Linked DNA regions of Homo sapiens. The protein of the gene in region 1 interacts with the protein of each later gene in a pairwise test. Each region holds a gene or a part of one and is shown in the gene's direction. Other genes may lie near its edges.

Region 1 (7,893 bases):
TCCCACCTCAGCCTCTCGAGTAGCTGGGAATACAGGAGTGAGCCACCACTCCTGCCTAATTTATTATTTTTTTTGTAGAGATGGGGTCTCGCTGTGTTGTCCAGGCTGGTCTCAAACTCCTGAGCTCAAGTGATCTGCCCACCGTGGCCTCCCAAAGTGCTGAGATTATAGGCGTGAGCCACTGCAATCGTTTCAGCATGTAATCAATATGAAAACATTATGAATGAGATAGATTACATTCTTATTTTCATACTAGGTCTTTGAAAATGGGTGTGTAATTAGCATCTCAATTCAAACTAGCTGCGTTTCAAGTCTTAATAGTCATGTGTGGCTCATGGCCACCATATTGGATAGCTCAGACTTAGCAAAATATTGCATTGTGGCACAGATCTCTGGAAACACAAAGGGTTTTAGATTCAAGTGGGCCTGGTTCCAAAGTAAATTTGCCCCTTTATCATTGGGATGGGCAGAAGAAAGCCACTGATGGGTGCTGTGGTAAAGGGGGAGCAGTTCAGTCATGCCAGGGGAAGAGGAGGGTGACAGGAGAGGCATGTTGGGGAGATGACACTTGAGCTCAGCCTTAGAGGCAGAGTGGGGGCTTTGTCAAGCAGTCACAGTGGGAAAGGACATTCTTTGCAGAGTATGCAGCTTGGGCAGAGGCCCAGGATTTTGAAAGAGCCCAGTGCTCTTGGAGAACCACAGCAGTTCTTTCAGCTTGACTAGGATATTAGGAGTGGGGGCCCTGCTGAGAGGAGAGGCTGGAGAGCTGGGCTGAGGCTGGACCTTGCACCACTGGCCACCACTGCCCCTGTCATTCACGCCATCAGCAGCTCTTGTCTGGCTTATTGGCAGGGGCCTCCTCCTGGCTCTCCCTGTGTCCACTTTGCCTCTCCCCTTGTTGTCCCTCCTCCATTTAAAAATGGAAGTCAGATCATGTCACTTTTCTGCTCAAAACCCTTCAGTGGCTTTACATTTTACTCAATCAAATTGGAGGTATCAGGGTCCGCCCCCACTCCTCTCTGATCATACCTCCTTCCACCCTCCCTCCTGATCACTTCTCTGCCTGTACTGGCCTCATTTCCCCACCCTGGGGCCTCCACACTTGCTTTTTTCCCTGCCTGGAACGTGTTTCCCTCAGATACACAAATGGCTCCCTCTCTCACTTCTTATCTCTTCCACTCCATTCCCGTCTCTGTTCTTCAGAGAGAGCCTTCTCATCACAAAATAAAATGATGCCCTTAAGTTTTTTCCAAAATGCTTATCACTACCTGGCATATCACATCTCGACGTGTTCATTGTCTGCTTCCATCCTGAGCATGTAGAGGCTCCAAGAAAGCAGGGGTTTGTCTGTTTTGCTCATTCTTCAGTGCTTGGTATTCAAGAAATATTTGTTGAATGGATGACTACATGAATAAATAAACAACAAAACCTGAAACGTAGCAGCCTTTAGTAAATGTATGTTGATTTGAGATTTTTGTTGAAGTGCTTCCCTTTGCATTTATTTATTTTTCTCAACTTTATGTTTGGAAAACATCAGATACACAGAAAAGTTGAAAGAATGGTTCATTGACTGACCATATGTTCCCAACTTAGATTCAAGAGTTGTTAACATTTCACAATTCCTGTATATATTCTTGGGTGTGTGTGTGTGTGTTCAAGTTAAAAGTCAGTTACAGGCTGGGTGAGGTGGCTCACACCTGCAATCCCAGCACTTTGGGAGGCTGAGGCGGGCAGATCACCTGAGGTCAGGAGTTCAAGACCAGCGTGGCCAACGTGGTGAAACCCTGTCTCTACTAAAAATACAAAAATCATCCAGGTGTGTTGGCCCACACCTGTAATCCCAGCTACTCGGGAGGCCAAGGCAAGAGAATCACTTGAACCCAGGAGGCCGAAGTTGCAGTGATCATGCCATTGCACTCCAGCCTGGGCGACAGAGTGAGACTCCATCTCATAAATAAATAAATAAATAAATAAATAAATGTCAGTTACAGAAATATGACACTGACCCTTTGCATTTACAAGTTGGTTCTAAAGAGTGGTGAGTCAGAAGAGACGTCAGGCAGCAAGCGACTTGGGCCATGGCCTCTGACCTAGACTTCTCACCTCCGGAGGTGCCCGAGCCCACTTTCCTGGAGAACCTGCTACGGTACGGACTCTTCCTGGGAGCCATCTTCCAGCTCATCTGTGTGCTGGCCATCATCGTACCCATTCCCAAGTCCCACGAGGCGGTGAGTTTTTCCCTGGGAGCCTCAGCTCCTCTGAGTGCCAGGCTGGGTTCTGAGTACTAACAGTAGGTGCCACCACAACTGAGATCAGCAGGGTCTACATTGGGCCTTTTTGATTTAGTGTGCCTCTGAATTTCCACCTGGTGGGTTGAACCACATAGCTAATACTTTATTTGTTCATGTACCCATTAAGGAGATTTTTATTTAGTGCCTACTACATTTCAGACTCTGCTGAAGATGTAGTGTCTGCACCTGAGGAGCATCTAGTCCTTGGGAGGAAGGCAGATAACAAAAACATACCTCCATGTGCTCCCATGAGAAGTACAGAGTCCAGTGAGGCTATATAACAAGGGGGAGAGAGACCTGATCTTACCCTGGGCTGTGGGCCCTGCCGAGGAGGCAGTGTTTGAGCTGAGACTGAAGGAATGAGCAGGCTTCTGCCAGGTGAAAGTGGGCAAGGGGCGAGGACAACATTCCAGGGAGAGGGCACTGCACGTGCAAGGGACTCAATAAAGGAAGGGGCTAATTCAAGGAACTGAATGAAGGTGACTGTGGCCAGAGCACAGAGGGGGCATGATGAGTGGTGCAGCCAGAGGTGTGGGCAGGGGCCAGAGGGTTTTAAGTGTGAGAATGACATGGTCAAATTGGCTTTTTTGTTGTTGTTTTGACTCTTCTTCTGTAAGTATCTTTATAACTATACACCCTCCTTCTACCCACTTTCTTGCCCACTCCCATTTGCTCGTGACATTGATTTATTGGAGAAAGCAGGTCGTTTGTCATGTGGGATACCTACATCCCAGGAATTGGCTATTGCTTCTCTGTGGTGTCATTTAACGTGTTTCTCTGTTCCCTGTGTTTCCTGTCAACAGGAGTTCCATGTAGAGGCCTGATTCCATTCCAGTCAGGTTATTGGGTACGAATACCTCAGAGCTGGTGCTATGTACTCCCTACTGTGTGGCATCAACAAGCAGGTGGTGTCTGGCTGCTGCACATTTAGAGATTCTTGGATTGATCGGTGGGTTTAGGTGGTATCAGCTGATCCCTCCATTATAAAAATCCGGTCAGTCTTTCACCTAAGCGGTTTTAGCATCCATTGATGGTCGTTGCTTAGATCCATTATTTCCTTCTGCATCTGTTAGCTGGAATTCTTTAACAAAGACCTTTTCCTTATCACTTGTATGATTACTCTGAATTGCTCTTCATAATGAAAAGCAGGAAAAATGCTTGGTTCTTTCCCTTTATTTATCAATTTTCAAAGTTGTGAGTTCAGACTCTAGCAACTTCCAATGATGACCAATGAAGCTTTGGTTTTCATAGCATTCTGAACATATTTTTAATATATTTAATATGTTTTAGTTTTTTTTTTTTGAGGGCACTTATCTGCCATTAATTTGTTTTTTATGTTCAGTGGGAGCCCCTTTAAGTTGATGTCTTTGTTCTTTGTCATACTTCATTAGTCTTTGATAGCTTCCTTGCTTCATGGTTCAATAAGATGTCACAGGCTCTTTTTTGTGTGTGTGCGAGACAGGGTCTTGTCTGTTGCCCAGGCTGGAGTGCAGTGGCACAATCACAGCTCACTGCAATCTCTGTCTCCCAAGTTCAAGCAATTCTCCTGCTTCAGCCTCCCAAGTAGCTGGGACTACAGGTGTGCCACCATGGCTGGCTAATTTTTGTATTTTTAGTAGAGACACGGTTTTGCCATGTTGCCCAGGCTGGTCACAAACTCTTGGGCTCAAGCCATCCACTTGCCTTGAGCTCCCAAAGTGCTGGAATTATAGGCATGAGCCACTGCGCCTGGCCCCAGGCTCATTTTGTACATTTCCTGCCCCAGTCTTGGAATCAGTCATTTCTCTAAAATGCTCTGGTTCTTTTTAGCTAGAAAATAGTATCTAGAGGCTACAGTTGGGACATTAGAAGTTTTCAGTGCTACTGAGCTGTGATTGCATCTAGGCCTTTCAATAAACAGAAATAGAAAATAAACATTTTTTAAGAAATGAAAAAGTTGTGAGTTCATACTGGTATTTCCAATTCAAATGTAAGGTGATAGTGTTTCTATTTATTTGATTTTATACTAGTGTCTTGTAACTCTTTATCTTATGCTGGAAATCTTGTTCTCAATAACATTAACAAAATGATGTATCTGCTAGATCCTACTGAATCTGAGGTCCCCAGGACCACCCCAGGTTCAGTGATGCACTAGGACTCTCAGCTGTGGCAGTGAAAGGATACCAGGTATGGCGGCACAGGGAAAAGGTACATGGGGCAGAGACTGGAGGAAACAGGCGCAGGCGTCTGAGTGCTCTCCCATTGGATACCCACAGGAAGGATTTGTGGCAATGTGTGTGAAGTGTTATCTAGCAGGGAAGTGAGTTAGAGACTCAGTGCCCACATCTCTTACTGAGGACTGGTTACAGAAGCACCCTTGGCCTAGCATGTACCAAAATTCCAGACTTCCAGAAAGCAAGCAGGTGTTCAGCATGAACCTTATTGTTTACACAGTATAGGCGTGGTGAGCCACTCTTATCATTTCTGGGAATTGTGAGAACCACCTGGAATCCAAGTTCCCAGATGCCAGTCAAGGGCCAACCTTGCAAGCATGCTTCTCTAAGATTAGCAATTTATATTAACTTTATTCTGCTCATCTACAATATACCAGTTACACTTTTAAAATAACTATATTTTTTACTACTAAGACTCAGAATGAAATTTAAGACTTCTTTGTGATTCTTTTTTGGCCTTAAAATATGTCTTTGTGGAGATACAAGGTCAAAATGTTGTGTTTAGTAACTATTTTTCTCTGTGTAGGTCTCCCATCATGAGATATAGTTTGGTTAATTTGCTTCAATCTGTTTTTAATTTTTAGAGATTTTTAAAATTTTGATTTAATTTGTTGTTTTAATTATATAAAACATTTATATACAATATTTCTCAAAGTCAAAACTATATAACAAGGTACATTTACAGAAGTTTCCTTTAATCTCATTCTCCTCCACCCTATTCCCTTCCTTCCCACATAGTTAACAGTTGTTATTAGTTTATCTTTCCTTTGTTTCTTTTTGAAAACAGTAACAAATGCATATATATGTGTATGGTGTGTACATATATATTTATATTCCCCCCTTCATTAAATAAAAGATAGCATACTATTAAACACAGTTTTGCAACTTTCTTTTTTCACTTAACATACGCAATATGTTCTGGAGATCCATATATCTTGGATATCACTGTTCCTGGAGATGCTGCTTCTGTAGCTGGGAGGATGATGGGGAATTACTGATACAATGTGGAACCTATTGATGCAGTGGAGAACTATGGTGAAGGAACAGGCTTAGGGTGGGTGCAGGGAAGGAACATGCCAAGTTCAGTTTTAAACAGATACTTTAACATGTCTGGGTGGTTCTGTCAAAAAAGCCGGTGGATTTACAAGGTCTCTAGCAGGAGGAGTGCATGGGCTGAGTGTTGACCAGCATGTGGGAGTTGATACGATGTCATTTGAAGCCACGGCAGGGGACAGGGTCTCCTAAGGAGAGAATGTGGAGGGAGATGAGAAGAGGACCTAGGCCAGAGCTGGAGGGGCTCCAGCATAGAGGGCACAGGCAGGGGAGGAGCAGCCAGCAAGGGTGGGAAAACCTTGGTGAACAGGGATGGGTTCGTGGCCTCTAGGTTGTCTTGTCCATCTCTTATTCTGGTATCTTGAGAAGGAGATCACTATTGGCGTTCTTCCACCCACAATTGTATCGCATTTTAAAAACATCACCTCTGTGCTCCTGGGCTCTGTCCCTGCAGACGTGGCATGCTATTCGGTATTATAAATAACAAATGTGGTTGTTGGTGGCTGATGAGGCCTGCTAAGAGTCCCGAGGGAGGGAGGTGATGAGCCTTCTTGTTTTATAGGCAGAGGTGTGTGGCTGTTTGGAGAGCAGGGAGGCTGCTCACCTCCTGTTGTGTTTGAAGCCCTTAGAAGTAAGCCACAGAAGCCTGGGTTAGTTCAGCAAACTTCAGAAAAGGAGCCCCTTTATTGTTCTCTTTAAGATTTTCAGTGGGATAGTGCGTTAAAGTCTTTTGAGGCAGGGAGTTGATGAAGGGTTCAAAAATATGCCATCATACCCCCCTACCCACTGCCATTTAGAGGTTACTTTTGGACAACAACCTCATGTTTTTAAATTTAAATATAGTACATGACATCTCTCATTTTTATTAATCTTGCATTTAGGGAAACAAGGCTCACACAAGTAAATTGTCTTCATAACTGAAGCTTACTGTTTTAACTTTTTTTTTTTTTTTTTAGCTTTTCAATGGATCAGTAGCAAAAAAATACAGTACTGTTGATCTAACTTTTTACTGGCGCATCAGGGGAGCAAATGGCCCCAGGTTATACAGGGGGTTCTGTCGCTAGCTCTCTGTGTGTCTCCATAAGGCAGCCTTTCTCACTTCCGAAACTCCTAACTAGATAGAAAGGAAACACAGCATTCTGTGCATAAACAGGATTACAAAGAGAGGGTGGATGCTGAGACTGTGCTGCTTAGAGGTTGTCCCTAATAGCTGAGATTTGGAAGGAGTTTGGAGGGGAAAGAAGGGGGTTTTAACATGGGGACGGGGTACTCTTAGGGAGAAAGGGAGCCCATGGGAGTGGGGGCAGCTTGTAAGACACTAGGCAGCCAGAGGGCAGTTGGGAGATACCTGGAAGTGGAGGGTGGCAGGAGGTAGGAGAGGGGGCAGAAGTGAGGGTGGGAGGACCCAGAGAACAGTCTTGCCCTCTTTGCCGTTTTGCTCAGGGCAAAATCTTCCCTCTTGCTTAGCCTATAGAAACAGGGTTTATTAGTGGCTTTTTGGGTCAGAAGATAATATTTTTGGCTCCAGATGATGGGAAAGCCTTTGAAAAGCAAAAGAATGTTTCCTGTTCTAGTAAGCCGATTTTTTGCAACTTGCTTATGACTTCAGTATTTCAATACTTAGCAGATTATTTGAAAGCTCTTTTGGGGTTAATCAGGGAGGAAAAGAGGGAACACATACAAATGCTTCCCACCCCACCCCCTTCCTTTTCATAGTAGGAGCAAGAGTCAATTTGTAAAATCAAAAACCAAGTCCCTAGAATCGTAAGCCAAATGAAAAGGTTTTCTCATTGGCAACTCATTAAACTCAGACCTAAGAAAACAAACATTTGTTTGAGCCTGATGGAGGCGTGGGCCACACTTAATCCAAGCATTTTCTTGTAGGCTGGATTCTAAAATAGAAGATAGTAGGTCCTAGTACCATTTCCATCTAGTCCAGGTTAGCTGGTAAGTTTCATCTCTCATGCCAAGTCTGATCAATTGCTTGGTGGCCATGGTGAAAAGGATTCTGGGGGCTGCTGCTTTGCTCTGGAGGAAAGAAATTGATCAATGATGTCTGTTTGCTGTGAGCTGGGATTAGAGAATGACAGTGCCGGTCCTTGGACTGGCCAATGATTCTCCACAAGGCTGCACATAGAACCATCTGGGGAACTTTCAAAGGCCTAGACCACACCCAGAGATTCTGATTCAGTTGTTCTCTGAAGCCTTGGATCAGTATTTTCTTTTTATTTATGTTTTTGAGACAGGGTCTTGCTCTATTGCCTAGGCTGGAGTGCAGTGGCACAATCGTAGCTCACTGCAGTCTCGACCTGGACTCAAGTGATCCTCCCGTCCTC
Region 2 (8,623 bases), on another chromosome or scaffold:
TGTTGTATAGGGGCTTCATGGTCAAAGTGTGCAAAGAGAACAATCACAAATCATCATGACAAGTGGTGCTGCTTGGGCTGTACTTCAGGAGCATCACGAATTTTTTTTTTTTTTTTTGAGACAGAGTCTCACTCTGTCACCCAGGTTGGAGTGCAGTGGCATGATCTCAGCTCACTGCAACCTCCGCCTCCTGGATTCAAGTGATTCTCTTGCCTCAGCCTCCCGAGTAGCTGGGATTACAGGCATGCACCAGCATGCCCGGCTAATTTTTGCATTTTAAGTAGAGACAGGGTTTTACCATGTTGGCCAGGCTGGTCTCGAACTCCTGGCCTCAGGTGATCTGCCCACCTTGGCCTCCCAAAGTGCTGGGATTATAGTCTTGAGCCACCATGCCCAGCCTACAAATATTTTTTATTTAAGTAGGCAGCACACACAAAACTGCACAAATCAGTCACGTGCAGCTCAGTGAAAAGGTACAAAATGAACAAAACTTAAAAAGTGAGCACACCCATGCCACTGTCACCCAGATGGAGATGCTTCCAGAATGTATCCCTTTACCCTCAAAGCGACTACTCCTTTGACTTCTAAAGGTGATCAGTGTTGCTCATTTTTTAATGTTATTATTTACTTATTTAATTTTTTAAAAGAAGAGATTGGGTCTCACTCTGTCGCCCGGGCTGGAGCACAGATCATGTAGCTCACTGCAAGCCTCGAATTCCTGGGCTCAAGCCATCCTCCTGTCTTGGCCTCCAGAGTAGCTGGGAATCAGGATACCTGGGACTACAGGTGTGCACCATTTTTTTTTAAACTTTATATAACAGGAATTATACACCATGTTCTGTTCTGTGTCTGTCTTCTTGGGTTCAGCATGGAGTTTGTAAAATTCATCCATGCACCTGTGTGTAGCTCCATATTGTCCTTTCTTATTGCTGCATAAAATTCCATGTTCTACAGTGTATTTATCCATTACGGTATTTTGGAAATTTCCAACTTTTAGCAAGTATGAATAGTGCTGCACATTCTAGGGCATATATCCTCATTTCTCCTGGGTGTATACCCAGGAGTGACATTGTTGGGTCATAGGATACTCAAATGGCCATGTTAATAGAAATGACCAAAAAGTTTTTCTTTTTATGTGTTTGTTGTCGTTGTTTGTTTTTTGAGACTTGACTGTCTCCCACACTGGAGTGCATGATCTTGGCTCATTGCAGCCTCAAACTCCTGGGCTCACACAATCCTCCCACTTTGGCCTCCCCAGTAGCTGGGACTATAGGCATGCACCACCATGCTCAACTAATTTATTTATTTCCTGACCTTTTCTTTTCTTTTTTCTTTTCTTTCTTTCTCTTTCTTTTCTTTCTCTCTTTCTTCTCTTTTCTTTCTCTCTTTCTTTCCCTCCCCCCTCCCTCCCTCCCTCCCTCCCTCCCTTCCTTCCTTCCTTCCTTTTGTAGAGGCAGGGTCTCACTATGTTGCCCAGGCTGCTCTTGAACTCCTGGGCTCAAGCAGTCCTCCTGCCTCTGCCCACCAAAATACTAGGATTACAGATGTGAGCCACTGCACCCAGCCAACGGTTTTCCAAAGTGGTTGTACCAAATTCCCCTCTGTCCAACAGAATACAAGAGTCAGAAATGGGTTCAGATCCACGTTAGTGACCTTGGGAAAGTTTTTAAGTCTCCCTCACCCTCAGTGTTTGCATCTGTTCCACGGGGCTGCTGTGAAGACTCAGTGGGAGATTTACCCTGGCAGGAGCTCCATCAGTGAGATGTCACTCTTTCCTGAAAAACTCTGGGGTCTTCACAGATCTATGCAGGTAATGCTCCTGCTCTAAAACTGAATAATCTTCTCAGAGAGGTCCATCAGAACAAATGATAAGTTCAACTCAGCTCCTCTCATATGACTGGTTCTTCCCATCTGAACACATGGGCTCGCTTCTTGTTTCATATTAGTTGCTGTTCACCTTTTATATCTGAAACAATGTCAAGTACAAAAATCACTGATATTTGGTGAGCGCCTTAAAAGCCCCTCCTTCTCCCTGAATCCCACACAATTCTATCTCCTTGCAATTCCAATCACTCTTGGTTTAATCATTTCATCCATATCGTGACAAGTTAGAAAATCTTGAAAGTGCTATGGGGCAATGTATAATAGTTGGTGCATTGGCACAGAACGGGGACTTTATATAAAGACATATCATCTTTCCAGAGTGTTCCAAAAGAACTCGAATATTGATATGTGTGTGTGGGGTGGCGAGGGGGGAAGGGAATTAACTAGGATTTAACTAGCTAAGGCTTGAAAGAATATTTGCCTTTTTCATCCTTTTCCCATTCCTCTCCATTTGGCCTTTCTGCGTATACAAGCTCCATGAAAATTCAATGGTTTCTTGGTACATTGAATTTGCAAGACAGTTTGATGACATCTTATAAGCTTGAAGATATGAATACCTTGTGGACCCAGACATTCCACACCTAAGGCTATTCCTAGAGACATGCATTCTTATCTGCACCAAAGGTACCTGAGGCAGTAATGTTTAATAGCCCCAACTGGAAAAAAAACAGATACCCATCAACAAGATGATGGATAAACAAATTGTGGCATATTCTCTTGATGAAATACTATACAGCAGTGAAAGTGAATGAATCACAGCCATGTGTGACAACAAACAGGTGAATTTTTCTAAAATTCGAAACAGATTAGGATGTATGAATCTTGTTTTTTTTGTTTGTTTGTTTTTGTTTTGTTTTGTTTTGTTTGACAGAGTCTCACTTTGTTGCCCAGGCTGGAGGGCAGTGGTTTGATCTTGGCTCACTGCAACATCCTGGACTCAAGGGATCTTCCCATCTCAGCCTCCTAAGTAGCTGGGACTAGGTTCACATCACCATGCCTGGTTAATTTTTATTTTAAAAAAGGTTTTTGGAGAGACAGGGTCTTGCTATATTGCCCAGGCTTGTCTCAAACCCCTGGCCTCAAGCAATCCTCATGCTCTGCCTCCCAAAGTGCTGGGATTACAGGCGCAGACACCGTGCCCTGCCAGATGAATCTTAAAGACATAATGTTGAACCGAAGAAACAAGAAACTGTAGAATATATACTATATGATTATTCCATTTATATAAAAGCCCAAAAGAAGCAAAGTAAAATTGTATTGGTTAGGAACGCATAATAAGGTAGTCAAACTTTTTTTAAAAAAGCAAGATATGAATACCATAAAGTCAGGTAGCGATTATTGCTGGAATAAGGGGCTGTGTAAGCGTGTTGGCAAAGGGGGTTCTGCAGAGGTGGTGATGTTCCATTTCTAGCCCTAGACTTGATTTCATGAGTGTTCATTTCAGACCAATTTCTTAACTCCGTACCTTTATGTTTTATGCATTTTTCTTTGTGCTTATTGAATTTCACCACACAAAAAGCAGAATGGGAAGTAATCAAAGTGGTTCTGGAGAGACGTGAGTATCAAGCAAACTATACCACCCAGAACCCCTATCCAGCCAACTAGGACCTGGTTAATTATTTCCTCCTGGGAGTTCAGACTTGTCACCTCTGGGGTCTCCAAGGTAGAATAAACCTTTAATTCCAACTTGCAGGAGTCCTTGTGATTTGAAACGTTCACAGAAGTAACCCCAAACCACTCTCTCCACTTTCAAAAATGGTCTTTTGCTAAACAGAGCAAATTTGTTTAGAGACTGACGAATCGCACCTCTAGACACAAATCCCCTTCTCTTTTCTGTCTTTTAAGTTTTTTTCCTGCCTCCATCCTGCCTTCTCCTTGCAAGATGCTGGGGAGCGTCCGGCTGTCTGCAACCGAAATGGAACGGGGTGGAAAACAGGCTTTCCTCCCAGGGGAGGAGGAAGCACCCCAATTCCCCCCTCCCTGCCTCCCAACCATGCGACGCTCCCCTCTCTCCCCCACAAACTCCGCTGAGCCCGGTACCCCCGCGCCTCCACGAGCCTCCACGATTGGTCGCGGGCCCTCATGTGTCGACACTCTGGGTGGGTCCTTCTACTGTTAAACTCATCAATTGCTCCCCTTTTCCGTTTGCTGGCCAGTGGTTCAGACCTTTGCGCCCATTTTTTTTTCCTCTTTACCTTCTTCTACCCGCAACCCTCCACACCAGTCTTATTTTAGCAAAACCTAGAGAAGGAGGAGGTGGAGGGATTTGGAGGGTGGAGAGGCATTGCCGCATCCAGGGGCAGCTATTGAGTGGCTAAGCGGAGGGCGCATACCTCTCTCTCTCTCTCTTTTCCCCCTGTTGGGAATTTTCAGGATTTCACTGCTGCAATTTAACCCCAAGATGAGGCACCATTGAGCGAAACGCTGTGCGCACATACACACTCACACTTCCTCCGGGAGCAGAAGAGGCAGCCGTTGGTGATTCAGGAAGAAAAAAAATTTTTTTTTTTTTTTTTAAACCTGGACCCTGCGGTGTGAAGACTCCTTAGGAACCCTCTGGAGCGTCTTACTCCCCTTCCCTCCTCTTTCCCTTCCCTTTCATCTTCTTTGTTTTTATTTTATTTTATTTTTGGAGCTACAGATCTTTCAGCATTTTTAAGGTCTAGGAACTCCAGCAAAACAGAAGGGCACTTAATTTTTTTTTTTTTTTTTTTTGCCCTCCCCACCCAGACCTGGGTTTCGTCTTTCTTTATTTTTAAATATATATATATTTTTTTATTTTTTATTTTTTATTTTTTTTTAATGGGCCGAGCGCACTCCTTTTGCAAGATGCCAGCCTGACCCGGACCTCGGAGGAATTTGAAGCTTCCACTGCGTCCCGGGGGGGGCGTCCTTTGCAAACCGTTCGCGTCTTAAAGGGGGTGTGCGTTGGGTGGATTTTTTTTTTTTAACTGTCTCTTTTTTTTTTTTTCCGGAGTGGGTGGACTGGGGATTGCCTGGATTCCTTCCTCGGTTATTTTTTGCCTCGCTTCTCTCTCCCCTCCCCCCTCCTCCCCGGGCCCCCGCGCCCCGCCCCCGCACCCTCCTCCCGCCCCTCCTTCTCCGGGGTCAGCCAGGAAGATGTCCCGAGCTGCTATCCCCGGCTCGGCCCGGGCAGCCGCCTTCTGAGCCCCCGACCCGAGGCGCCGAGCCGCCGCCGCCCGATGGGCTGGGCCGTGGAGCGTCTCCGCAGTCGTAGCTCCAGCCGCCGCGCTCCCAGCCCCGGCAGCCTCAGCATCAGCGGCGGCGGCGGCGGCGGCGGCGTCTTCCGCATCGTTCGCCGCAGCGTAACCCGGAGCCCTTTGCTCTTTGCAGAATGGCCCGCTTCGGAGACGAGATGCCGGCCCGCTACGGGGGAGGAGGCTCCGGGGCAGCCGCCGGGGTGGTCGTGGGCAGCGGAGGCGGGCGAGGAGCCGGGGGCAGCCGGCAGGGCGGGCAGCCCGGGGCGCAAAGGATGTACAAGCAGTCAATGGCGCAGAGAGCGCGGACCATGGCACTCTACAACCCCATCCCCGTCCGACAGAACTGCCTCACGGTTAACCGGTCTCTCTTCCTCTTCAGCGAAGACAACGTGGTGAGAAAATACGCCAAAAAGATCACCGAATGGCCATATCCTTTTGCCCGAACCCCAGCAGCAGCTGCGCCTCCCCCTCCTCCCTCCGCCTCCCCTCTTCCAGGCTGGGAGAGAGACCCGGGGGTTGATGGGAGGTGGGGAGGAGGGGGGTCTTCCAGGGGCTGGGAGAGGGGGCACCGGGAGGAGTGTGAAAGAATCTCTCCACCCCGAGCTGGGTTGAGCTACCCTGGAGGCTTGGGAATGGGTTTGTGGGGGGCTGGGGGGTGGGCAGCGGAGAGTGGATCCTTCCCAAGGACCGACTCTAGAATGAGATCTGGGGCCTGGGGTCGTGCAGGAGCCTTGGTGGGGGCTTTCGAGCCAAGTCCGGAGGGTTTGGAGTTCTACGGAGTGAGCTTGGAGCGGGCTCGGGCCTGGGCGCTTCTGGCCAGGGCAGGGGAACTATGGGGGCCTTGGTTGGGTTTTCTTGGCCGTCGCTCACTGGAGTCCACGCAGGGGAAGCTGGACAGCCTCTCCACTACTGCTTTCCCCAAGGTGGGGGGCCGCCGCACTTTTAGGGCAGGGCGCTTGGGGGCTCCCAGGGCTAAGAGCAAGAGGGAGTCCATGTGGCCTTCACACTGAGAAGCCAGCACTGGCCGAAGTGAGTACCCCAGGGTGGGCCGCTGTTCCTATCTGGAGAGGATAGTGATGGGCTGGGGGGCGCTTATGTTTCCCTCATGTGTGCAGGTCCCATTGCCTTTAACCGCTGATTGGGGAACCTCATCATCTTTGGGGGTGTCGAGAAAGAGATCCCACTTGCTTTATCTGGGCCCCTGGCCTGGGAAGACCTGATCTGGACACTTTCAGTAAGAAAGACAGGGCAACAGCAAATGAGGTGGTGGGTCCATTTTAGAGCACCATGTCCAGCTTTTCCTACCCCGAGTAGCCGAGAGGGAACACCAGGAGAATCAGCACCCATGTGGACATCTTAGGTAGGTAAATGCCTTTTAAATTTTTTTTTTTTTAATCAAAGATCCAGAGGAAAAAGGTGAAGCCCACATTTTCTTCTGTGGAGATGCTATCAAAATGCAGATCTTCTGTGTTTCTTTAAATCCCTGCCTGCTTGAAATAAACCTTGAGGAGGGCTTAACATCTATCGAGATGTAGGCAGGCAAGGGTGGGTAATTAGTCGGGCTTTCTAGCAGTTATCTAAGCATGACCCAGATTCCAGGAGGGGGGACACACCCTGCTGCCCAGGCTGGCTGGCCACTGTGCCATGCCCAGATGTGCCGCTTCTCCGCACAGTTCCAACCAGCTGCCCTCTGTGTAAAAATGAACGGGCTGGATGGGTCCCTGGGGCTCAGCGATGAGTCCCCTATCCCTTTTGTATGTGGTTTTGCAGTTATAGACTAAACGGGGCTGGGCCCTGTGTGGTCTCCGGGGGTTGCTGTTTGAGGAGCATGGCGGGTGGTAGAGGGACTCACTTCAGGGGGGTTCAAAATCGAGCCTGGCGCTTGGATCCTGGGTGCTGGGATTGCAACAGAGGGCACTGAGGTTTTGGAGTGTGTGAGTGGTCTACTTTGAGGGTGGGGAAAATTAAGAAGTTCAGCAGAGGTGCTTTTGAGGGGAGCATACCTCTAACTACGATGCCATCTCCGTTGGTGCCCAAAGCAGGTGCCAGGTCTTTGCTTCCTAAGTTTCAGACTCTTAAAGAGGCTGGTTCTTAAGGTTAGCAATTCCTCACCATCCCAGGCCCATTGAAGTGCTCAGGGGTGGCTTGATTACTCTGCCTATCAACAGAGTGAGGAGTGGGAGTGCCTTGCAGGAGGACAGGGTATTCATGGGTGCACACCCAGTTAGCTCCAGGAGTGAGAGGGCTTTGCTCGGCTGACAGGTTTCCTCATTGAAAATGGCTTTAGATCGCCTTCTGGAGCCTGGATTTGGAGACTTCTAAGAGGAAAGGAAGGAGGTGGGGAGCCCTTCTGCTGTGTCCTTAGCTTACCTCTGTCCAGCCTGAATCCTGCAGATTGGAGGGCTGTTGGGGGAGAGGGGGATTGCAGTGGCCCCTCGGAAGGGGGAATCGTGGGAGAGGGAGGCAGGTGAATTGCGAGTGTTGCTTGCCACTTCATCTATTCTCTGGCCAGCTCGCCCGGGGCTTTCTTGCTCTTATGATGAGTTTGTGCATTATGCTCTCTGCAGACTGTTTTTGTTCTCTTTGACCCGAGGTAACAAACACATTATACAGCCCTACTCTGGAAGGGAAAACTCCCCACCTCACAATCTGTCATCGAGCTGGGTCATCCAGGACTGAGCTTTCTCTGTCCTGGATGGAGCGGAGGGCGGTGGCGGGGTGGGTGGGAGGGTTGGAGATGAGAGGGGATGGACAGAGACCTGGGGAGGGAGGTAGTGAATAAAAGAATTCAGGCCAGTGTAAAGAGAAAGACACGTGGAATGTCAGAGTCACGATACCAGGGCAGAACATTCTACTTTTTAATCTAAATATTTCTGCCATTAAAAAAAAATGTTTCAGCATATCCTGAGAGTGAAAAAAAAAGTGTGTAGGTACTTAAATAAAGTCTAATATATGTACAGGCAAGTACATATATTCAGATGCATAGATTTTTACAAAATGAACACACCCACGTATCCAGCACCCAGGTCCCGATCAGTGCCCTGGAAGTCCCCCTCCCCATACCGCCTCCTAGTTGCTCCCCCAACAAGGGTACCGCTCACCTGACTTCTAAGGTTCATTTTGCCTCTTTTAAACATGTAAATGGAGTCACACAGTACGTTCTTTTGCCACTGGCTTCTTTTGCTCACATCTGTGTATGTGACTCTACTACAATCTATCCATTCTACTGTTGATGGGCATTTGTGTCATTTCTGTTTGTGCCACTGGGAACATTCTTGTGTCTTCTATTATTTTTTTCCCACAGTTCTCTTAGATAGGAGTGGAATCGCCCCTGCTACTTTTTGATGCATGTGTTGTGGGATGTGTATTTGGAAATGGTGTTGACTAAGGGTTGCAGGTCGATATGGAAAGCAGGTTCCTCCCTGTCTTGTTTAAGAGAAGTGAGTGAATGATCCATGAACTTGTCGGTATGCTCACAGGGCCTAAGAGTGCTACTTCCAAATGTAAATTCTGGCATG
Region 3 (8,646 bases), on another chromosome or scaffold:
TAAAAGAGAGACGACTCTGTGGCTCACAGAGAGCAGGTGTGATTCATGCACATTCAAATTATGGGCTACAATTTTTTAAAAAGGTACTGTTGTTTTAGGTTCTCCAATTTCTCATTCTATTTCTTTTGCTATTTATTGTGGCAGCAGGCTAAGAGCACAGTTTTGTCTTGGTTTCCAGTTTGTGCTCCACTACTTATCAGCTGTGTGATCTTGGCCAAGTGCTTAATTTTTTTGAACCCCAGTTCCCCCATCTGGAAACTACCTCATGTAAGTAAGTTGCGTGTACTAAATAAGACAACATTTGCAAAATGTTTAGCACACTTGGCAATGCAGTTAATAGCATTATTATTACTAGTATCATTGCTATTATCATTAACATTATCAACTCACCAGATGCTTGTGTCTGTGAAACAGCTTTGAGAAGATTAGGGCAATAACTCAGGACCTACGAAAGAATACACGTTGACACACTTAGTCAATCTTTCCATCTTTCTAGGTTTGGTAAGTGAGTAGGTTGTCTCCAATAAATCATAAAATTATTGCTAGGCTCTGGGCTGTGATTCCATGGACCAGTCCAATGCCCCTTAGAGACTGCCAGGAAACTAAAAAGGTTATTTTCATGTTCCTTTCCTTCTTGGCCTCTTTTCTTGCCAAAGTTTATTTTCATATTAACATTACCATTCATTCTAACTATTCCATGGGCTCCTAAAAGTGGATAGTTTTCTTGGACACAGGTCTCTCCTGATGTTCATTTTTCTGACTTTATTTCTGCAGCATTGAAAATCATGTTACTCATGGTTACATGAGTAACCTTACAGTCTCTATGTATCAATTCTGTTAAAAAGCCCAGCATTCCCGGGGCGGCGCAGACGAAGGTGGGTGCCTTACTCTCTATGCCCAGGGAAAAGAGAGCTTGTGTTTGATATTCTGACTAAAAGCATTTGATCAAGAAGACTCTCCTGGCTATCCCCATTATAGCCAGGGTTGCCCATCTGGGAATCCTAGCCATTCCCAAGTACATCATACCATCGAAATTGCATTCCAATATGAATACCTCATGGAAGCATTTCTCTCCCTGCAGGGGAGGTGGCATCAGTTCACCCTCTTACACAACAGCTACTTGGTGATTCTGCTGTCTCTTCAAGGGCCTTACTGACGATTCCTCAGTAGAACCTGTTTTCCTGAGTCTCACTTCAGCAACATAAAGCTAAGTTTGGGTAATAGAGGTTATGTTGTTCAACCCACTTTCAAAAACAATTCTAAGCATAAATGTCCAAGGTTCAGTGGATATCTTAAGGGAAACTTTATATAGTTGTAATCAAAGAGGAAACTCTTTTACTGAGTTCAAAAATAAGTTAGTAAAATAGCTTGTTTCTTTTTAACTGATGAAAGATTTTAAAGGTAGTTTTAAGAGGTGATTTTGTCGCAGTTCATCACCATTTCAACAAGCATATTGTGAGTTAGTTTTCAATAAGTGCAATTATTTTGAGGCTCCTTTTGTCAAGGATACTCACATAAAAAAAGTCCTACCTCTCTCCTGGGAAGATGTGAGCTGTGAAGGCCGAAACCAGCTGCTGCTTCTCCCCATACTGCCAGCCTTGGTGAGCCCAGAAGGAGTCAAGCCTGAGGGAAATGAGAGAAAGGGGTCAATCATGGAACAGAGGAGCAGCAGATTCTAAATTAGGGTGAATGCATGAGCTCCCAGGTGGACATCAGAGGAAGAACTAATGCATGTTCCATTTTTTTTCTCTCACAAGCTTAAGATGTCTGATATCTGAAATTATTTATATCTGAGACATCTCTTCAGACTTCACCTGATTGGAAGGATTTTGCTGTTTTTTGGTGTTTTTCTCAATTTTTCAATTTTGGGAGGTTTTTTTTTTTTTAAAAAGAAATACTAATTAGGTCTCTTTACAAATTTAATTTCAGTACTTTGAATGTAATTGCTTAAATTCTGTATAAAATGTTTCTCTACTCACGAATTGGTCTTATCACTAATTTGTGAGGATTTTCTATTTCTAACAAACCTGACTGCACCTAAGAGTGATAACATATACCTATAGAAATAAACACACACATCATCATCACCATCGTCATCATCATCACATAAAAATACATAGCTGGACATATTTTCTGGAAATCTGTACATTACATTTGGATGGTTTTACTTAAAATAGAAGCTCTATGTCACATAAAAGATTCACTTTGGGAGGCTCCTGAGGCCGTCTCAAAGAAACAGGTGGTCTTCAGAGCAACATAAAGCGGGTTCGATAAGAGGTCTGAGTAACAGCCCATCAGGAAAGAAAACTAAAAGGCCTTAAGGCTCCATTTACAGGAAAACAAAGAGTGGTTTCAGATTTGAGCCACAAATTAAAAACCACAAAGGCAGACTCTGTGATTGCAGGCCTTGGTTTGGAATTGAACTCCTTCTCAAAAGGACATCCCCATGTAATGGACATCAGGATGAATGACAAGCAATTATAAGTTTGATATTGTTTAATGATTCTTCCTAGAAATGATAGGAAGTCCAGCTAGTAATAAACACATGTTTGAAAACACAAGGGATTTGGAGGCCAGGGTCCAAATGTGCTTCTTAGGGGAAAACTTTCCTAAGTGGCTCAGAACATGATCCAGAGATGATTAGATCATTACCAAGAGCTGCTGTGTACCACTTACAGGCAGCATTCATAAGCACAATGCCAAGCATATTGTATGGATTTCAGTGTTGCTGAATATAAAAATGAATCAACTATTTTGAGCAGCTATGAATTCAGACACAAGGAGACAAAATAAGCAACACAATAAGGGAAATTTAGACAGAATTAGACACACAGGGAAATAAGAGTAAAACAGAGTAAAGAGAGGATCCATCTACAGGGAATGTTGATTTGCCTTGGCACCATACCTCTGTTTAGATCTACCTGAGGTAAACAGGACGGATAGCTCTTAAAGTGGAATAAAGGCTAGTTTCCATTTTCCTCCTCATATTCACATATTTATATACATTTAAATCATGCAAACAAATTAACTCCATCTGTGTATGGCATCATCTTTATTTAGTAAGAATCACAGCAGACTTGTTTATAAATATGCAAAGGAAATGTGCAGTCCATTGCGCACACACCTCTCATCTCCCTTCCTGAGGTCCATGCCACTTGCTCCAGTTTCAGCGAAATGGAGACCAAGCAGAGATTTGATCTCTGTCAGGGCTGGAACTGCTTCTGGTTGTATTGACCTTCTCTTTGCTCTGCCTACCTTCATATCAGGGTGTGCACGTGTTGTTCTCCCAGCACTGCTGTCATTAGCAGCCTTCCATTCACCTCCATTCTCTTGAAATACTCTTCCTTTAACTTCCATGATGACACTCTCCTAATTTTCCCCTACTTCTTTGGCTACCTCTTCTCAGTTTCCTTCCCAGTTCTCTGCCCATTCCTTGAATAATTCTGCTCTCAGTCGTATCATGAACTTTATAATCTATTCTAAGGGGCAGTACAGCATAATGGTGGGAAACAAAGACACTAGAAACACACTGCCAGGGTCTCGCCATTTTCTGGCTGTGTGTGTGATTTGGGGCAGGTTACCTGACATCTCTGATGTTCCCCTCGTTTATAAAATGGGACTAATAATAGTACCTACTTCATAGGGTTGGAAGGAGAGTGAACGAGTTCAGACGTATGAAATGCCTGGCACACAGTAAGAGCACAGTAACTTCTTAGTGGTACAACCATGACTTCGGCTATCATTTAGTTGAATACCTGCATTAGTTATTTAGTTGAGATTATTTGATATTGAGTTGATTGGTTGATGAACTAATTCTCTAGACCAGGCTTTTTCCTAAGCTCTAGGTCTATTTAACCAACTGCCTACTAAACATTCTCAACTGTATTTAGGGTTCCTTAAACTCAACGTTCACCAACTAACTCATTTCTATTTTCCCACTCCTCCTCCAGCCAAAACTTTTGTATTCTTTTTCCTAGATGAATAACAGTTATTCCTTTTATATCCTTTTTCTAGATGATTAACAGTATCATCGTCCAAAGGCCCAAGCCTTTGAAAGTTAATAAAATTTCCTATCTCTATGCTAAACATAAACACTTAAGTGGTCATCAGGTCTTTTCAGTTTTCCTTCCTATCTTCCCTTCTGGACTACAGCAAAAGCCGGTATTTTCTGTCTTTAGTCTCCTTTCCTCCCAGGAAACCATCCTTCTTTCACACTGCAGTCAGGCTTTTCATCCTTTTTAATATGTTTTCATCATCTTTCCATTCATCTTCACGATAAAAACAATTTTTTTAGCATGGCATATGAGGTAATTCATCAATTTGCTGCTTCTTGTCTCTCAAATTTCATCTCCTACCACCTTTGGTTTTAGCCAAATGAAACCACCTATAATCTCCGAAGTTGTCACCCTCTTTTTCACCTTCATGCCTTTGTAATTCAACCTGGAATGCCCTTGCCTCAATTGTCTGTCTAGATAATTCCAACTCCATTACAATATAATATCTCTAATTCCCAAAACACTACTCCTAATCGAATTTTTTAAAAACCTAAACAACAGTTAACAGATGCTAGAATTCCAGTATAGTTTGCTGAAAACAGAATAAAATTTCTTTTGTGCTTTTATTTCTAAGGCACAGAATACATTTCTTTTTAGTCATCATTTTAGCTTTCCATTGACTACTAATGAGTCTTTGGGTGAGAAATGGAAGGTGAATTGGAACGTATCTTCTACCAGGATTTTGTAACAGATCTAGATGGCTAGGAAAACTGTGAAAGGGGAAGAGGTGCGCAGCTAGCCATTCCCCACTTTCCTCTTCTCTCTCTCTCTCTCTCTCACACACAGACACACAAACACACACACACACACACACACACACTTTTCTTAAGGGAAAAATCACTCTGTGTTCTTTTAAAATCCCTCAGGTTTTATGTTTTATTGCTACCAGAGTCTGCCTCCCTGAGGTTCTTGTATAGACTAGTTATTTCCCTCTGTAAAGAAGCTGTTCTATTCGTTCTCGCCTGGTTTGGAACAAACTGAACACTTCCAAAGGAGGCAGTCCTTGCAGCCTTGTCTCCTTCCACTCCCCTCCTCCCCACAGTCCTGGCTGGAGCAGCGAGTCTGTCGATCCCAGGCCAGAGACAAGGCAGACAAAGGTTCATTTGTAAAGAAGCTCCTTCCAGCACCTCCTCTCTTCTCCTTTTGCCCAAACTCACCCAGTGAGTGTGAGCATTTAAGAAGCATCCTCTGCCAAGACCAAAAGGAAAGAAGAAAAAGGTATGTAATTTTTTCTCTATAAAAAACATCTTATGTCAGTTGTTCTACTCCAAAGTATTACTGTAGATTAGAGCAGAAATGTATGTATGTGTTGAGTCAGAAGAGAAAGACAGAGATCCTCTGAGGAGATGATGCAGGCACTTTGAAAAATATGATGCTTCCTAGTAGAAAGGCAAATAATCAGATTAAAAAAGAACAGAAAATGTATATTTCTTGACTAGGAAAGTCATTTCATTACAGGTTTAAAAAGAGGCAGATTCTTCACTATCATTTATTTAATGCCCAAATTTACTCTGAATGTTGTCCCACACAACAGGACTTATCCCAGTCCTCAGAACTATGTGAGGATGATAAAGTATATAGGATTGTTTTAAATGCAGCAGCTATATTACCTACACTACATGAAGTTAACTGCAACATCTAAGAAAGAAAATGTTTTTTGCTTTTAAAAATCCTGATTTCTGAAAAGAACCTGGTACAAATGTGTGATACAAAGAGGGAATTCATTGAATTCATCCTTGGTGTCCATTCTTGGAACACAACAGTGTCTGTACTGCTAATATAAAGAGAACACTTTTTCCCTCTGAGACTTAGAAAAATTCCTCTTTAAAATTCCTTAACTTAATTACACAGGCTATGAAAAGCTCTCCCAAATGCTGGTCCTTTTCTCCAGTGATGATGATTTACTGTGTCCAGGAAAAGAAGGAGAATGATGCAAGACTGAATATTAATATCATCTTCTGGCATGCTCTAAAAGCCTGATCACTTTTAGGGAGGATGTGGATTTTGTTTTTCTATGGATGAAGGTATCTTAGATATTTAAGATGATATGTCTGTTTTAAGGATCTTTAAGCAGCTTATTCACTTTTTAATACTGCTTCTGTTCTTTAACACATACTTTGGGAAATTTCACTTTGGGACTCAGTCATTCTAACAAAAACATTTTCTAAGGACTCAGTCATTCTAACAAAAACGTCTTCTAAGGCAGCTAATAAGAAAAAAAGAGAACTTTAAAAAAACAGTGATTTTCATCCTCCAAGAGAGATGAGTGGAAAACATCACAGACTGGGCAGCAATTTTAATCTCTCCCAACTATAATTTTGATATTTCAAATGTCAAGTTCTGGGCTGGAGTTTTCATTTGCTTTTGCAGCTTTGCTTCTCTCTTGCTGCTTTTTTGAAAGCAATCCGAAAATGGACTGTCTTTTCTGTCTAATTCATCAACTCTGTTTCATGCCACTGCTCTTAATACCAGTTCCCAGAACTGACATCAGCTGCCTGTATGAGCATTTGCACCATAAATGTCTGAACACTTAAACTGCATGGTCCTGTTAGTTTTGGCAATTAAATGGGATAATTTTTCTTTTTAAGTCTCCATTTAGCTCCAGCCATTCAAAAGCTTGCTTGTGCTAAATGCCCTCAGACAGAATCAAAATTTGCAACTCCCTACCAAAGGATGGTAGCAATGATTTATTGTTTAGTTGGAAATGTCTTGCTCATAATCCTGTATCCTCTGCAATGATCTATTAAAACTTACAACACTATTAGGATATAAATGGTATCATACAACATTTGGAACAATGTTAATTACATAAAATCGAATTAAAAAAATGGATAACTACCTAAGCTTCTCTTGCTCACTCCTTCTAATTTTTAGTAGGTAACTTTGTTTTCTTTTGTAATTTGGGTGTATTCCAGGAGGGATTTTAAGTACATGTACCTCAACTGAAAAAGAAAAAAAAAAGACCAATTTTCTTCAAATTGGCCAAAATCATTTCACTCTTGTTGGCACTTGAACATATATGGTTTTGATGGATTGCCAAGGATTAAGTTTGGTATCCTTTAATGAAACAACAACCAATGTATCCCAGGAACACACTGGGTCAGAAATTTTTCCATTTGCTAAATAATAGTTAAAGCTATTTATCTGTACTTAAGTAAAGGAAGAAGAGAAGTCTGCATTTAAGACATGTAATTTATTTTATTTTATTTTGTTTTATTTTATTTCATTTTTTTGAGACGGAGTCTGGCTCCATCGCGCAGGCTGGAGTGCAGTGGTGCAATCTCGGCTCACTGCAACCTCTGCCTCCGCGGTTCAAGTGATTCTCCTGCCTCAGCCTCCTGAGTAGCTGGGACTACAGTCACATGACACCACTCTCAGCTAATTTTTGTATTTTTAGTAGAGATGGGGTTTCACCATGTTGGCCAACATGGTCTCAATCTCTTGACCTCGTGATCTGCCCGCCTCGGCCTCCCAGAGTGCTGGGATTACAGGTGTGAGCCACTGTGCTGGGCCAAAACATGTAATTTATAATGCATACACACACACACACACACACACACACACACACACACAAAACTACCAGTAGGTACTTGCTAGGTGTGGAACTTTCCATTGTAGTATGCGACTTAGACTGTGGCAAAAAAATGATCTTATGCTCTGGCATGAACACAGAAGAGGTATGTGGTATGGCAATTTACTTACTTATTTTACCAGCAATTTATTTGTTCATTTCACTGAAGGAAATTTTTTCAACACTTACTGTGAGCTCAGCATTGAAGCAGGCACTCTGCTTCAATACAAAAGAAGTAGAAGTTACAGTCCTTGCTGCCTTGATGCTGGCATCTCCTCTTCTAGTCCTCTGAATATTGAATTGCCCTGGGCCTCAGCCCTTTGCCTCATCTCTTCTGGATCTACCTTTACTGCCCTGCCAGACCCATAGCTATAGATACTATCAATAAATATCCTGATTACTCTCAAATTTGTATTTTCACCCCTGATCTTTAGACTCACATTCAACTGCCTACTCAACATCTTCACTTTAATATCTAACAGGCATCTCAAACCTAACTTGTCTAAAAACTCATTTCTGGATTCCCCCCAAAATTGGCTCCTTCCAATTCTTCCTCAGTTCAACAAATGACAACACCATTCAAGCCAAAAGCCCAAGAGTCATCCTTGATTCTTTCCCTCTTGCTTCATATATCCCATCAGTTCTCACCAAAAGCCTGTTTTCTTCTATTTCCAATCTTGTCCCACCACAATACATCTTCACAGGCCAGCCAGGGATTTTTTTAAAAAGGCATAAATCAGATCATGCTACTGTTCTGTCAAAATCTTCCAATGGCTTCTTAATATACTCAATAAAATCTAAACTCTTTATCATATCTTCTAGGCCCTTTATGATTGTTCCCAATCTTCCTTCTTGGCTGTAGGTAAATTCACATAATAACCAATTCACTAAATAATTAATCAGCTCTATGAATTTCCCACTCCCCATATCCAATTGTAGTCATATTCTCCAAATGGTTAACCAGCTTATAAAAATGCTGACAATGACAAGGCATTATTTACTCAAATTCACAGTTCTTGT

What was found.
Region 2: the proteins of MANBAL (region 1) and CACNA1A interact in a two-hybrid assay, tested with the Homo sapiens proteins (one study listed by BioGRID and IntAct).
Region 3: the proteins of MANBAL (region 1) and SCRG1 interact in binary tests that used the Homo sapiens proteins (3 or more experiments, as listed by UniProt).

What each region holds. Positions count from the first base shown.
Region 1 is NC_000020.11:37,299,186-37,307,078, forward strand, and holds part of MANBAL (protein MANBAL), read left to right. Parts: intron 1-1,985; exon of another isoform or gene 1,986-2,022; 5' UTR 2,023-2,078; coding exon 2,079-2,228; intron 2,229-3,094; coding exon of another isoform or gene 3,095-3,115; exon of another isoform or gene 3,116-5,376; intron 5,377-7,893.
Region 2 is NC_000019.10:13,502,841-13,511,463, reverse strand, and holds the start of CACNA1A (voltage-dependent P/Q-type calcium channel subunit alpha-1A), read left to right. Parts: upstream 1-4,984; 5' UTR 4,985-5,239; coding exon 5,240-5,532; intron 5,533-8,623.
Region 3 is NC_000004.12:173,395,695-173,404,340, reverse strand, and holds the start of SCRG1 (scrapie-responsive protein 1 precursor), read left to right. Parts: upstream 1-5,224; 5' UTR 5,225-5,273; exon of another isoform or gene 5,274-6,999; intron 7,000-8,646.